Regions from separate parts of the Homo sapiens genome. Here region 1 is linked to region 2. A link means that fine-mapping ties the variant in region 2 to the expression of a gene that starts in the linked region. Tissue or cell type: whole blood. Region 2 holds a variant in brackets; the other region holds the start of a gene. All regions are shown on one strand. Distances are from middle to middle.

Region 1 (8,105 bases), 320 kb after region 2:
CTTCTGCCACCAGCTCTTCCATCTTCCCCTGGTTGTAATTGACCTTCCCCTCTACTTTCCCAGATTCTAACCTTGCTATGTCCAGTGTGCAGCCACTAGTGACATATGGCTAATGAGCACTTGAAAAACAGCTAGTGTGAACTGATATGTGCTGTAAGTATACAATATACACTGAATTTCAAAAACTTCATATGAAAAAAAGATGTAAAAAATACTGATAGCATTTTATATTGATTACCTGCAGATATAATATATATTAAATACATGGAGTTAAATAAAATGCACTATTAAAATTAATTTCACCTGATTCTTTTTACTTTTTAACATGTGGTCACTAAAAAAGATTAAAATTGCACATGTGGCTTACATTATATCTCTATTGGACAGAACTAGTCTAACCATTCTTTGGAACCCAGCGTAAGTAAAACGTTGATATGATTTGGCTGTGTCCCCATCCAAATCTCACCTGGAATTGTAATAATCCCCATATGTCAAGGGCCGGGTGGAGATAATTGAATCATGAGGGTGGCTTCCCCCATACTGTTCTCATGGTAGTGAATGAATCTCACAAGATCTGATGGTTTTATAAATGGGATTTCCCCTGCACAAGCTCTCTTGCCTGCCACCATGTAAGACATGACTTTGCTTCTCATTCACCTTCTGCCATGATTGTGAGGCCTCCCGAGGCATGTGGAACTGTGAGTCAATTAAACCTCCTTCCTTTATAAATTACCCAGTCTCAGGTATGTCTTTATTAGCAGAGTGAGAACAGACTACTACAAATCTCCTTAAAGATGCCCCTATTTTTATGACATTCTTAATTATCTCTTTTGTTCTCTGAAATCCTATAATGGATTCTACCATATACCTGACCATCTAATTACATAACACACCATAAATTTACTATTATTTTGTATCTATTCTTCTCACTACATCAATGCCAGTTCTATATCCTAATTTAGGACTCATAGTAAGCACTCAACTTTTAATTAGAATCTGGCCAGGCATGGTGGCTTATGCCTGTAAGCCCAGCACTTTGGGAGGCTGAAGTGGGAGGATCGTTTGAGTCTGTGAGCTCAAGACCAGCCTGGGCAACATGGCAAAACCCCGTCTTCTACAAAAAATACAAAAATCTGGCCGGACATGGTGGCTCACACCTGTAATCCCAGCTCTTTGGGAGGCCGAGTCGGGCAGATCACCTGAAGCCAGGAGTTCAAGACCAGCCTGGCCAACACGGTGAACCCCTGTCTCTACTAAAAATACAAAAATTAGCCAGGCATGGTGGTACACACCTGTAATCCCAGCCACTCAGGAGGCTGAGGCATGAGAATTGCTTGAGCCCAGGAGGCGGAGGTTGCAGTGAGCCAAGACGGCACCACTGCACTCCAGCGTGGGTAACAGAGTGAGACTCCATCTCAAAAAAAAAAAATACAAAAATGAGCCTAGTGTGGTGGTACATGCCTGTAGCCCCAGCTACTCCAGGGGCTGAGGTGGGAGATTACTCGAGCCAGGGAGGCCAAGGCTGCAGCAGTTGAGGCAAGGTCAAACTACTGTACTCCAACGTGGACAACAGAGCAAAGATCCTGTTAAAAAAAAGACATGGAATCTTTGCTGGAGCAATATGGTAATACACAGGGTTTTTTGGTTTTTGTTTTGTCAACAGTGTAGGAAGAACTGGAAGTCACAGGACCTAACAGCTCTTCGTTCTTCCTCTAACATAAGTAAACCGTCTGCTACATGGCTTGATACGTGTCAAGCCTGCCTGTGCCTCAGCTTACCCCTCTGTAAAATAAAGTTAATCATACCAGACCAGTCTATAGCCAGGTGAAAGTATCTACATCCAAATTGGAGTTATTACCATGATACTAAGAAATACTCTACTTCCACAGCTAATTTTATGTTTCTCACCCAGTTGTTTTAAATACAGACTACTTTTTAGGAAAAGAGAACAAATTCATCACTATTATCAAAAATAAGAAAGACGGAGAAAAATTACCTATCAAAATACTGGTCCTATCCTATTAATGGTGGGAGATATGTAATGGGAAAGAAACTGTTAAAGGCCTACTTCAAGCTGAAGTCATTTATTCATCATACTCACAATAATCCTTTAAAAAGCAAACATTACCATACCCATTTTACAGAGCAAAGAAACCGAGGTTCAGAGACAGGCTACGTAACTAGCTCAAGTCATGAAGCTGCAGGCGGCAGGGACAGGCTGCAAATACCCAAGTAAGTGGCATAATCTTTGCATACTTAAAAAAAAACTTTATTATCACTTGAAGATAAAATATATGAAAAGCAAAAGTGTTATATAAATACACACATAAAAATACAATAGTAATTACTATTCATTTCCTTCAAATAGTTTCCTTAATCTTGGCTTAATTCCTAACTTTCAGTTCAAGAGGCCTTTGTTTTCTAAGTAGACTTTTTTTCGAGTAGCAATGAAATAGAATATGTGATTAGGTAGGAACTAGTGCATTACGTACTACTTTTTAAGTCTTTAATAAATCACAGGAGCAAGTGAAAGTTTACATTAAATATTATGACTAGAATTCCTCAGACACATTTTACAAAAATCTAGTCCCTACAAAGATCACAGTAATAAACAAAGCAAACTGGGCCACTCCACTAGTAAGTATATCAACAAAAAACATACACCTAAGGAAATATAAAAGAACCTCTCCATGTTACAAAACTGAGGTCATGATGAGTTCAGTGAAATGATAAAAGAAAGTTCCCTAAAATAAGACCTACACCTTAGAGTGAAACTACAATTTTACAAACTTGAAAAGAATCAACTTTCTCAGAATGGGAACAATGTACTGTGTGCTAAGAAATAACCTGATCTAGGTTTACTTGATTCTGCCTTTATAAAATGTAGCCAACTTAATCTTGCAGACCTGGACAGAACAAAAATTTAAACGCTAAAGCACAGAAAAAGGCTCAAAGTATCAAACGCTTTAAAACACAGCTCAACTCTCCTTTATCAAAAATGTCCCTGCAGTAGGTGTTAATCAGTCACTACCAGGAACTCCACACAATGCAACCTGTGTATTGTGCAACCTGTGCGTGCATGGTATCTACAGGAAGTAGAAAATTCAGTTTACCAAGAACGCCACACTTCACTCTCCACACTTCACTCTCAAAAGTCTTGAAAACGAATCCCTGTAACAGCAACTAATTTACATTTCATTTCAAACTGAACAAGTCAGTGTAACCTCAAGGTATGTGAGATTGTGAATAACTTCACTTGGCAAAATCAGGTGTGGTTTGGTTTGGCTTGGGTTCTTCTCCCCCTCAGAGGTAGAATATAAATAGAAATAATCAGCAACTTCTGATCTCATGAACAAGATCTTTATTTAAAATCTTCACACGTTAAATCATTTTATGCAATATTCTTTCAAGTGACAGACACATTAGCACTAGGCGATTTTTGTGAATTTTGGGACTAAAAGACACCTGGAAGAAACATAAGGTGTTCTTTCCTTCGCCACCAAATACACAGGTAAGTGTGTCTATAGATAGCAAAGGTGTTTTCATCCCAAAGAAAAGTTAAGACTTAGGATGTAAAAAAATACAGAAAACAAAACATAGCCTAGGCGAACCAGCTACAGATCACATGCAGCAGGTGACAGGAAGCCTTGTGGACACCTCACACCCACAGGGGCGAGCTTCATCACAGGTCAACTCCAAGCCCACCTGAGCTCCTCAGAACCTCCACCTGGCAGGCCATAAACCAGAAGGTGGCAGACAGCATCACTGTCATGCCGGTAATAAAGGAGAAGCAGCCTCCCTGAACCCAAGAAAACCACCCCTCTCTCCAAGCAGGAAGAGAAGGCCCCTTCACACCAAGGACACAAAGAAACTGAAGCAGCCAGACCCAAAATAAAAATTAAATTTAAAAAGCAGCATGGGAAGACAGATGACAAATCTGTGCTGGGATCGCCTGGAATCTCGGTCTATATGGGGGTCTCACACTCAAAAGTAAAAATAAAATTTAAAAGGGGGATGACAGAGATGAGAGCCCAATTAGGTCTGTGCTGGGTTCACTTGGGGTCTCGGTCTACTTAGGGTCTCAGACTCAAAAATAAAATTTTAAAAATGAAAGGGGGAGGTGACAGTTCAATGTGTGCACGTGATGACCACTTGGGATCCAGTTCACTTGCTGGGAGGACAGGGGACAGGTACCTCTGTGCCCGGCCTCCAGGTTCTCCGGGAGCGCAGGCGCCCAGCGAGAATCTGGGCTAAGTTTAACTCGAGGGCGACGGGAGCAGTGCCCGAGGGCCAGGCTGCGGCTTTCTGGAAACAAAGCCCCGGGGGTCCAAGCCCAGATCCAGGGAAGGGGGTCGGACGCCCACCCATCCCCCTCCCCAGCCTCCCAGCCACCGACCCCTGCACAGAGGAGCGCCCTCCCGGCAGGTGCCCCTAACCCGGCGCCCCGACCCCCGCGCCCGGCGCGCGCCTCACCCAGCAGCGCCCGCAGGTGCTTCAGGCGGGTCAGCACGTCCTTCTTCGGGTCCAGCACCTTCTGGGTGGACTTCTTCACATCCCCGTGGCTCCTTCGGGAGAACATCCCGCGGCAGGAAGCCCGGGCCCCGCCGGCGGGGCAGTAGGCGCCTGCGCCACGCGAATCAAAGCATAGGGTCGAGGCCGGCGCGTGTCGCGCGGGCCACTCGCCGCCCCCAGCCCCGCTGCTGCCGCCGCCGCCGCCGCCGCCGCCGCCTCAGCTGTGTCTCCAGGAAGGAGGGGCGGGCCGGTCACGGCGAGGGGCGGGGCAGGAAGGCGGTGTCGACGGGGAACCGAAGGCCCCGCCCCGCGGGAGGTGCCGGCCGGCCCCTTGGGCGCTACGCACGCGCACACAGGCCGAACTCTCCTGGCGGGACACTAGCCCGTCCGCGCCAAAACCTAGCGGGGACGCGCTCAGAGGGCCGAGAAGGCGCCTCGAATCACAAAGGAGCTTCTCTCACGCACACGTTGTACTACAAGTCCCGAGATGCACCGCGAGACAGTCCTCCAATCAGGCTGGCGGTCTTCGGCACGATGGGAGTCAGTGGGCCGGCATTGGGCACGTCGCCCCGCCCTGCCGCGGGCCGCAAGTGCTCCTGGGAAATGAAGTTCTCCAGCAGGCGACGCGCTGCGACCTCTTTTCCAGGGTCGCAGAAGCGCAGGGCGGCCTCTGTCCGTCCCCTGCCCCGGCAGCCTAGATCGCCCGTGGTTTCACTCTCCCTCCTGCGCGCCCACCCCATTTTCCTCTAGTGCAACGTGAACCACACACGCCCAAAAATCTCAGTAAGAAAAGTGTCAAGGCTTTTCAAATGCAAACTATTTTTAGGTTTAGCTTCTGGATTCACACAAGGGAGCGAGTCGAAGCCCCTCTGACCGTGCCGAAATCGCAGCTCTAATTTCACACTAAAATGAGTTGCTTTGGCACTAGGGAAGAGCGTGCCCCGGTGAGGAGTTCAGCCGGCCCCTAGGTTCCTGGAACCCAACCTCACTTGGGGTATGGAGGTCGCTCGCTCAGAGGGCTCCTTGGGATCTTGCCTCTTTGTAGGAAGGGTGCGTTCTCTGTTGTGCAAGCCACATGGCGATCCAGTAGCAGAACCAGAAATAGAACCTGAGGGATCTGACTCAGGCCTGTATACTTTTTAAAGCCAGGCGCTTATTCCCTGGGGCAAGACTTTGAGCTGAAAGATGGTCAGGAGATTTCTTACACTGTAGGATTGTATAGTGGCATCCGAATCCTGCAAGTTTTGACATCCTTTCAGCTTTTTCAGCAAGTACTTAAGGTAGAATCACGTGGTTTCCATCCAAATTGGGACAACACAACTGTCTTTTTCTCCTCTAGCTGAACTGTAACTTGAGGGAAGAGACAAGGATTTACACGCCTTTGTATCCCCATCCCTCAGCACAGTATTTGGCCCATAGGGTCACTCAATAAAAGTTTATTAAATGAAATACAATAAAAAGCTAAAGTAGTCCTACATATTTCAACCAGGCAGGCGAAAAGGAAAAAATAAATAAATAAACTCACAGTTTTAGAGCGTCTCTCTATTTTTAGATTTGTGTAATATTCCTTTGTATAGACACATTCATACAAAGGAATATTACTCAGCAATAAAAAAGAACAGACTACTGATAAACCCAATAACATGGATCACTCTCAGACCCGGAGATGAAAGCCCCATGCTCAAGATGATGGCAGAGCGGCCCTACCAGCCTGAGTCCCCAGATGATAACAGATCAGGACCACAAACTTCTAAAAGTGTAACAAGAGAGCAAAATAATGTCTTATCTTAAGTCAAGGCATTTTGAGAGTCTTCGTTACAGCAATTGAGCTTGTACCTGATTACACATAGTAAACCACAATGTTCACTGTCCAATTCCTTTAGGAGAAGATACTTTTCCTTACACTGATTGAAAAAATAGAATATACTTGTCTTAGGAAACTCCATTTTTTTAATTGCAAAGCAAGCTGCCATCATCATCAAACATTTATTGAGCACCTGCAATGTGTAAGGCATGATTCTAAACCCTGGAGATAAAAGATGTATAAGGTGCATCCTCCTGACCTCCAATGCTTCCAATCCAGTTAAGGAGGCTGAGCGATTAGATACATGTGGGAATAAATGACAGTGTACAGTGAACATGTGATACTATCAAGCTTGGTAATGCCAGAAACAGGCATCTGTGCATATAAATTCATCGCACCCATCATATCTAGCCTTTACCCAGTAATGAAAATGTAGAACTCCAATTCTTCTCTTAAAAAGGAAGAAACATATAGTATTATTATGTTGGTACTTTTTCACCCACTTGCATATTCCATATGGCTCTTCTTATTTTCTGTTGTTCTTTCTAAACTCGTTCCTGCTGGGCTGTGAACTCTTTGAGGGCTTCACTTGCTTTGCACTGAATTCTTTATCCCTGGAGTTATAGAGTGCCGAGTGTTATGCAGACATTAAGTGTTGTTGAATAAATGTCCTACAGTAATCAGCAAATAAGAATAATGAGATCAAAAGTTTAAAACTTGCAATGCAAATTAAAACTACTCTGAAATATCATTTGAATTAGAAAAAACAAGCAAACAAAAAACCTCTACAGAGACAAGGTGTGATAACACACTCTAGTCTGGTGGCAGAGCTATAGAAAACATAGCTGGTAGAAATGTTAGATGCTACAACTCTTATGGAAGGAAATTTGGCAAAAATAAATATTTGCCTTTTGACCCAGAATTTCAATTTCTTTTTTTCTTTTTTCTTTTTCTTTTTTTTTTTTTTTTTTTTGAGATGAAGTCTGGCTCTGTCACCCAGGCTGGAGTGCAGTGGAGCTATCTCGCCAGGTCCAAACGATTCTCCTGCCTCAGCCTCCCGATTAGCCGGGATTACAGGCGTGCGCAACCACGACTGGCTAATTTTTTTGTATTTTTAGTGGAGAGGGGGTTTTGTCATGTTGGCCAGGCTGGTCTTGAACATCTGACCTCAGGTGATCCATGGGCTTTGGCCTCCCATGTTTTGTTGTTTTTTTTTTTTTTTGACAGTCTTGCTCTGTCCCCCAGGCTGGAGTGCAGTGGTGTGATTTCAGCTCACTGCAACTTCTGCCTATCAGGTTCAAGCGATTCTCCTGCCTCAGCCTCCTGAGTAGCTGGAATTACAGGCATGTGCCACCATGCCTGGCTAATTTTTGTATTTTTAGTAGAGACAGAGTTTCACCATGTTGGCCAGGCTGCTCTTGAACGCCTGACCTCAAGTGATCCACGGGCCTCAGCCTCCCAGAATGCTGGGATTACAGGTGTGAACCACCACACCCAGCCAGAATTTTGACTTCTAGGAATCTACCCTGCAGATATTCTAATATATAACACTGGAAGGATTTAAAAAAAAACCTTAACATTAATGCCTACCTAAGTGGGATAGAGGATGAGGTGGAAAGGACTCAGTGTCCTCTCTGAGTATATCTTTTTATATTTTTTTCATTTTTGAACCATGTAAATGTTTTCCATATTCAAAAATTGAAACAGAAAAAGACAAGCCTGAAAATAAAAAATAAATGGAAAAAATAAAACTAACAATATATGTAATTGGTAGGATAACTCTATGGAG
Region 2 (8,090 bases):
GCCCAGATGTCTGGAATCATTTAAAATAAAGGGGCATTTGCTGACACCACAGAAAATGCCAGGACTTGCAGTCACTCTTCACATTGCCCTTCAGCCCCCGTGAGTATCCTGGGCCCTTCCCAAAACGGCCCAGGGGCCAGAAGCTTCCTTCCACTTTGGGGCACCCTCATTCTCTTCTGTTCAGGTGGTTCTCAAGGTGCTCCTGTCAGTGGGCCTGGCCTGCAATCCCCTATAAAGCAGAAAAGCAAATTCTCGCCAGGATGAGCAGGCCCGCCCTTCCGACAGGAACGACTGGCTCAGCTCTTTCTCATTTGTCCCAAGAGTGAGTCTGGCTCCTGAGTCTCCCCGTTTTCCCTACAAAGGCCAGGTTCCAGCCAAACCAGCTCCATGGCAAATGGAAAAAACTGGCTCCTCAGTGAAAATGGCCGTTCTGATGGGGTGAGAGCCTCAGAAGGCTTCTTCAGGCCTGGGTGGCCAAGCAGCCTGAAGGTAACAAGTGTGTGCAAGGGCAGAGGGCAGAGGGCACAGGAAGGTGGGGAGGCCTCCCGCACAGGGCCCGCCTTTCCCAGGACCAGCCCACCCATCATAAGCCCTGAGTTAGGGGCTGCGTCTCTCGTGCTGCTGTCCCTTCCCACTGCAGGGCGTTGCTCTGTACCTGGCCGCTGTGAGAACAAAGCCTGCGCAGTGGCGATGGACTCTGGTAAGCTTCTTGGATTTACTTCCCAAGTGAAGTGCGGGGTGGAGCAAACCTCTAGCTCTGAGGCAGGTCAAGGGTCCAGGACACAGCCTGGGGCCTGCGCCAGCAGCTCTTCGCTGCTGACTGATTTCTCTGCTGCAGGACGGGCAAGGCCCACCCAGGGCGCCCCAGCAGGAGAGGGCTCACCATTGCTTCTCTTTTCATTCATTCATTCATTTTGTTTTTAAGAAAAAAAAACAACAACAACAAAAAAACAGGTCTAATAAGCCTTCCTTGGAGCCAAATGGGCAAAAATGTAAGGATTAAATCCCTCGCTTGGAATCGGCTACCAAAAGCTTTGTGTGACAAGAAACATTTCTGAGGCCTGTGTGAGGCCTCTCTGGGCAACAGACAGGAGCAGCAAAGTTGCAGCGTGAGGCTTTTGGAGGCACAAGGCCATTCGGGGGGTACCCGTCTCAGCCTAGCGCCTGAAGCCGGCATGCGCCTTTTGTGTGGATGTGGTCTGTGTTGTTTTGAGCCTTGGGACACTTCCTGTCCTGCAGGAACTTATGCAAGGACAGGACCCTGTATTTCTGGAATCTTCTGAGTGTTCTAAGATAGGGGCATCACTGTCATGACCTGAAGCGCCTCTGCGTGGTGAGGAGAGCCTCTGCTTAGTTAGCGGGCGTCAGGTACCATGTGGGAAAACACTGGACAACTGAGGTAAAACTTCTCCTGGGCAAAAGACCCCGGGGAAAGCCAATTTCCATGATGATGAAATTTTTGAGTAAACCATAAATCCTAACATAAAAGGAACTAGCAAAATCAATGCAGATCAGATTCCTCAATTAGACAATTGTTTTGCCAGCCCCTTTGTGAATCATGCTTGGGTTCATAAATGAGAAGAAACAACTTGGGGTGCAGAAGCAAGCTGCCCTCTGCCCCCTCCCTGAAAGCGCAGAATCTTTTCCTGCTGTCATCTGCCCAGAGCAGCCACACCAGTGCCCACGTGTCAGTGGGTTCATCTCTGGTTTTTGGTGACTTTTTCTTTTCTTCTTTGGAAGTCCAAGGTTTGTGAGGTTTCAGGACAAGATGATACAGCCTAGTTTGAGTCCCATCTGAGACACGGTAGTGGGATTCACCATGGGCTTCAGAAGTCCACTAATGGGAAGACCTGCTGAGGGCACTAGTACAGCAACGAAATTTCCTGGAGATTCTGGGTTTAGTGGCTCGGGGCAGAGGCAGGAGAGGGTGTTCTGTCTCCTCCTCACTCAGGGGCTCTTCGAGGTCAGCACTCAGACTGGAGGCCAGGGCCCCTGCAAAGGAAGCAGAGAACTGCTAAGTCATGGAGGCAACGGCGGCTCTACGGCCACACATTTCAGGGAGGATCTGTGGCACTCAGAAGGGAGGGAAACTCCCAGGAGAAGGGTCTGGTGACCTCCTCCCACGCTATGCCGGCAAAGATGTTTGTTGAATGAATAAACACATGAATGTCTTTCTTCTTATTCTTTGCCCTGGGCTTTTCTGCAGCATAAAAGAAGCTATGAATCTTGTGAAATTAATTCAGACTTACTGTCCAATTCATAAGTAAAGAATGAAGAGAAAAGGCATCTGGTCACAGTGAAAGGGAGGAAGAGCCACTGAAGAAGCAGTGGCTGGAGTCAATGGAAAAGCCCGTGAAACTTCAGAGGCCGCTCTGCAGATCCCTGGCGGTGTTCCTGGAATCTCCACGTGTTTACATATCGATATTCTACACAATGAGTTACAACTCGATTATTCCCCAAAGGGTCTAAGACTAGAGGTCAGTCCTAAATTGCTTGTCTGAATGAGTCCAGATGAGCATACAGCTGTTCATCACTGGAGGGAAAAGGAATAAAATTAAAACCTGCACATCTGCACCCCCCGCTTCCCCAGGGCTGCTGTCGGTGTGCTCAGAGGAATACAAGAATGCCTGCTGCAACACCAAGCCACTGTTGCGGGTGGAGCTGGGTCTCCCCTAGCACCGTTCTGCGAGCGAGAGGATCATTTCATCACCCTTCCCCTCGTAGTGTATTTTTAAACCCTGTTGTATTATGCCCCAAGTTTCCTGCATGACCTCTGCTGGGAACCAACCTCAGAAGCAGAGTTTCCACATCTTCCTCCCTGCGTGATTCACTTGCAGGGCTTTGGCCTTTGAAATTATTATTATTATTGGCATTTGAAATTAATTTAAGTCAGTTATTTTATTCACAGACGCATCTTTTTTCATTCTCTGACCTTCCCTTATTGTTTCTAGGAGGAGTTTCCAAAATCAATACTTGCAAACGTGCTTGGACCTATGGAGGCAGCCTGGCTCAGGGTGTCCTGAAATTCAGTACTTTCAGAGTCCAGGGGCTTCATGGTTGCCTCCCTTCTTCTAGGCTCAGT[C/A]AGGTCGGGCATACAGAGAAGGCTCACTATTCTCATCTTTAAAACAGGCTGCAGCCGGGCGCGGTGGGCGGATCGCTTCAGCCCAGGAGTTCCAGACCAGCCTGGGAAACACAGTGAAACCCCGTCTCTACAAAAACATTGCAAAACTTATCCAGGCATGGTGGTGCGCACCTGTAGTCCCAGCTACTTGGGAGGCTGAGGTGAGAGGATTTTGAGCCTGGGAGGTCAAGGCTGCAGTGATGGCTTCACTGCACTCCAGCTTAGGTGACAAAGTGAGACCCAGTCTCAAAAAAAAAACACCACACATGAAAAACCTCAGAACACAAAAACAGGCTGCTTCTGACAAAGGCAGCACAGCTAGACCATCATCCACAAGAGAAGCTAGATTGTTACAAGGCATCTCTCCATCCCCTCGCAGCTGGTGGTGGGCACTGGCATTTAATCCAGGGTGTGGGGCAGCATGGGAGAACAGACTTGATTTAATCCCAGACAATATTCCAACAGCCCAGCCCACTATGGTAATCAGATTGATTCTAATAAATAAGCAAAAAAAAAAAAAAAAAAAAAGGCAAGTAAATGAAAGATATAAAGTGAGATCCAAAGAGAAAGAGCGAACCTTTGCTAATTCTGGATTCGAAGGAAAACATTTTAGTTCCTCTGCCCCACCCACTCACCCAGGGAGGATAAAGAGGGAAAGAGGGGTGCACCTCGAGTTCCTGCAGATGGACAGAGGAATGCCAGCTTTGTCCCGCTGAGTGAGCCTGGAGAACAGCAGGAAGCTCTGCAGAGAAGGGGGCCTGTGCACCTGAAAGCAGGGATCCCATGGCCAGGGGCAAAGGGCAAAGCCACCCCTGCAGCTGGGCTGCAGCCAGTGCCACAGTGCCCTACACAGGCCTCTGGTCCCCAGCTTTCTGCTGGGACATTCTCATCTGCACTGGGCCCTCGTGCCACAGCACCCCGTGGTGGGGAGGTGGCAGCTGCAGGACAGGTAGGCGGGACACAAGGTACGGCCGCCTTCCTGATATGACACGTCCACTCGCAGCTTTGCTCCACTCGCACTGCCTCCTCCCGGTGATGGAAGCCAAGGATTTATTCACAGGACACTCGAACCTCACCTCCCCACTTTGGCGGCAGGAGCAGGAGGACATGCATGGAGACGGGGGTCTCGGCAAATGCGAAGTTTTGCAGCAAGGTGCCCTGCTGGGAGGGGACTGTACAACCCTTCTCTGCCCCATCTTGACATGAGCACCTGGGCTCTGAGGCTCGTGTCACCTGTTGGGGCTGACACGAGTGAGCCCAGTTTGGGACAATATCAGGACTGGGCTTAAGCCTTGGGTGAGGGGAAGAGAAAGGGCAGCTGGCTGGAGGGTCGGCTGGCTGTGATGCTGGCTGCTCCTCTGGCCTGCAGGTCCAACAGCCCTGCCTAGCAGAGGAGGGTGAAGGTTTGGATAAACCAACAAATCTGGACCCTAACATCCCACTTCCATATTTACTGAGACAAAGTGACTGGTGTCTGTGCCTTGCATTCCACTGTGGGCGACAGGCTCAGGAACGGCAGCTCGCTCACTTGCTTTCTCCTGTGAATGGCATTGCCGTGATCCTTGTCATTACCAACTGCTCGCCTTCCGCCTGTGAGCCTGGGAGGTGGTGCAGCCCAGGCCACACGGGACAGGGTTTTCAGACAGCCTTGCCAAGGCGGCTGCCATCCATCAGAGCGCTCTGGGCAGGGCCTGGACCCCAGACCCAGGACAGAAAGGCAGGCTGGGGAGGTCACACCTGCCATGGCCAGCCTATCCTCTGGGTCCTAGACCGCAGCCCATTCCTAGGTCTCCACCCTCTGCGCTCCCGCAGCTTTTGTCCGCTTTTCCTTCCCCAGCTGTTCCATTCAGCAGCCCCCGCCACAACCTGCCCTCCCCGCATGGAGGTCTCAGAGGCCTCCATTAAGGCTGGCGGTCAAAGGCCGGCCCAGCACGTGCCGTGTCTTATCGGCCCATCTCAAGACCCTGCTCCTTCAGGCCTGGGCAACAAAAAAGGGGGCGGCCCCAGCGCCCGCTGGCTCCCTGCAGCCCCACACACAAAAGGGCAGGCGACAAAGACATTTTCCGGGATGGCAGGTGTTGGTGTCGGATTCCTCCCCGAGTGCACGGGCAGAAGAAAGGCAAGGCTGGGCTTCCCCGGGCAGCGCAGACATGCAGGGGCAGGAGTGTGGGCAGGGCCCCCGGGGAGGGGAAGGCCCAGGAGGGCGAGGAGCACTGATGCAGGGTCCGCTACCGAGGGCAGCCGATTAGAAAAGTCCCACCCCCTCCCCAAAGCAGGGTGGCTGGACAAATCCACTGAAGTGTCTGTCTTACCTTGCTCAAATATTGAAATGAGACCTTTACGTGTTTTAATCTGAAGGGAAAGAACACAAAATGGAATGAATACAAACACAACACCCCCACAGCTCCAACTTGATAACTAACACAGTGCTAATAATACATTTATCCCTGAGCTGCCCAAGCATTTCTGCAGCCTTGTCAATCAGTAAAAACTGAACATTCACTTGAAAATTCTACTTGATAGGACAAAATACAAGCCGATGTCGTGTTTACAAATGTGAAATGAGAGAGACATTAGAACTCCCAGGATCTACGCATGCAGACCTTGTCAGGATCTATGCATGCAGACCTTGTCAGGAGCCCTACAGATGCTGAACAGCACTGACAGCTATATCCTTTCCCTGCTCTCCAACTTTTCCTGACTGATTTTGTTTAAAATACAAAGATAAAAGTGTTTTCAAGACAAGCATTTGAAATTCAATGGATGACCTGAAAAAATAATTGAAACCCCCTAGGTGGGCAAGTTTACATGTCTCCAAGTTTCATTTTACAGGTTTCTGAGTTATACACAGTGTGTTAATACTGGTGTCACCTGCAATATGACAGTCCCCAGGGAGGGAACACACAGCATCCTGTGCAGAGGAAAGCTTGGGAGGGTTCCCTGGAGTGGTGAAATTGGACCATAAGGTCACTCTCACCCACAGAGCAGCAGGGTCTCAGTAGTCACACAGAACTGAGGGGGATTTTAGCTTTTCTATGCCTTGTGACAGGTTCTTCCACCCCTTCCACGCCATCCTATTTCCTACGGCGGGGTTTCCTTGGCAAATGCATCCTCTTTCTGCGTCAGGCAGTAGCTTCTCCTGAACTCTCAGCCCCCACAACTCTCCTGAATTCTGTGTCAGTAGACGACCATCAGATCTGGACAAAGGACATTTATCAGTGACGTGGACCATTGTCTGCACAGTCACAGTTGTAAACGTGGATTTTCTGCTGACCCCCTCTGCCAAGGTTGCCAAGGTTGGCACAGTGACAGGGGCAAACTTCTAAGATGGTGGCTCCAGCAGCCATCAGGAGGTGACCACTAACATTCTTTTAGCCAAGGCTCCATGAAAGAAACGTGCACTGCTATGGAGACATCTTTTCCAATCTATTGATGAAAATTGTCCCTTTCTCCCAAGAAAATTATTTGGGGTTAGGAGATTCTGGATCAGTAACTGATCGTGGGTCGTGTATGATCCTTGGTTTGATTTCCAACCACCGTTAACACCGTTCCTTCTCCACACCTGGTTGTGCTCTTTGGGCACAAGAGGTTCTGGGCTGCTGCTGACTGTTGGTCATGGGCTAGAATGTTTTCCATGGATCCTCGGGATGATTAATCATTTAGATTTCTGATTTCCCCCCAATGTGCTGTGCTGAAGGGCCCCCATTTCCTCTCATGGAAGAGGGCAAACATAGAGCATATCTGCGTGGGTCTTCCTTGAGTTGAGGAAGTTCGGCTTTTAGAGCACCATGCCACTGACACCCTCCAGTGTGAGCAAAGGGTCTCTTTATGAAGGCGCTCCTTGATCTCACTCCTCTGCAGCCCCTCAGCCCTGGTTATGCTGTGCGTACAGGCACCCGATTGGTAGAAACCAAGAAAGCAGATGGCGCAGCTAACAATGGAGGACTTGTTTGTAATTGCTGATGAGGACTGGGTTGCCCCTCTCCTGTGCATCCCCAGACGCAGCCTGGTGTGGTGTGCTGGACCACAAAGAATGTCTCAGTAACTGCCAATCCATGGTTGAGTTAAGGAGATGCAAAGACAGAGACAGTTGGGGGCTGCCTTGATTATTCCATGGGGCTCAAATGTCACTTGCCCTTGACACACGGCGGTGCTCCCAAAGGGTGGGGTTCCAGTCGTGGAGCAGAGGAGTAAGCTGTCAGCTTCCTGATACATCTCTGGGGTACGCACAGGGCACTGACCAACCTGGGCAGTGTGGAGGGCACCTGGAGGGCAATGTGCTCGGAGATGGGGGGTGGGAAGAGGCCAGGAGGGACCTGACGTCTGGGGGCGATAGGGGAGAGACACAAAGCCTAACTGTCCTATCCCTTTGTCAAATGAGCAGCAGATATGTGCCAGGTACTGTTTTAGGCTCTGGGTTACAGTGGTGACCAAAGCAGATGAAACCGCTGCCTCCAGGGGATCTGGGAGAAAAGTTACAGCATGCAGTCTAATGAGGGGATATCACCCCTTGGGGTGGCAAAATAGCCTACTCTTTATATGCATACAGCACAGGTCTAAGTACTGTAAGTAAACAGATACACAGTGTTTCTGTGGTGTTTCAGGGGAGGGGACAAATTAGGAAACCAAAATGTCTCAGAAGGCTCCACGGTGGGGTGATAATGGATAAAAGGTTGTGACAGCCGGGCACGGTGGCTCACGCCTGTAATCCCAGCACTTTGGGAGGCCAAGGCGGGTGGATCACCTAAGGTCAGGAGTTTGAGACCAGCCTGGCTAACATGATGAAATCCTGTCTCTACTAAAAATACCAAAAAATCAGCTGGGTGTGGTGGTGGGCACCTGTAATCCCAGCTACTTGGGAGGCTGAGGCAGGAGAATCGCTTGAACTGGGGAGGTGGTTTCAGTGAGCTGGGATCATGCCATTGCACTACATCCTGGGCAATAGAGCGAAACTCCGTCTCAAAAAAAA

Evidence for each region. PIP is the estimated chance that this variant, and not a neighbour inherited with it, causes the effect.
Region 1: RALGAPA2 starts here. The variant in region 2 is fine-mapped to the expression of RALGAPA2 in whole blood (TOPMed, PIP 0.98).

The regions. Positions count from the first base shown.
Region 1 is chr20:20,707,902-20,716,006 of GRCh38, forward strand. It overlaps RALGAPA2 (Ral GTPase activating protein catalytic subunit alpha 2), which reads right to left and starts at 4,743. Exons shown (of 40, transcript NM_020343.4): 1 at 4,474-4,743. The coding sequence starts at 4,579. RefSeq lists a silencer at 4,634-4,893 and enhancers at 4,885-5,179, 5,004-5,203.
Region 2 is chr20:20,391,262-20,399,351 of GRCh38, forward strand. It overlaps RALGAPA2 (Ral GTPase activating protein catalytic subunit alpha 2), which reads right to left. Exons shown (of 40, transcript NM_020343.4): 39 at 5,434-5,473; 40 at 1-1,992. The coding sequence ends at 5,469. Among named protein-coding and RNA genes, the nearest start is that of INSM1, 27 kb to the left of the region's middle. RefSeq lists enhancers at 1,529-2,728, 3,523-4,067, 4,068-4,611 and a silencer at 4,984-5,278. The variant C/A (reference allele first, on the strand shown) is at 3,083.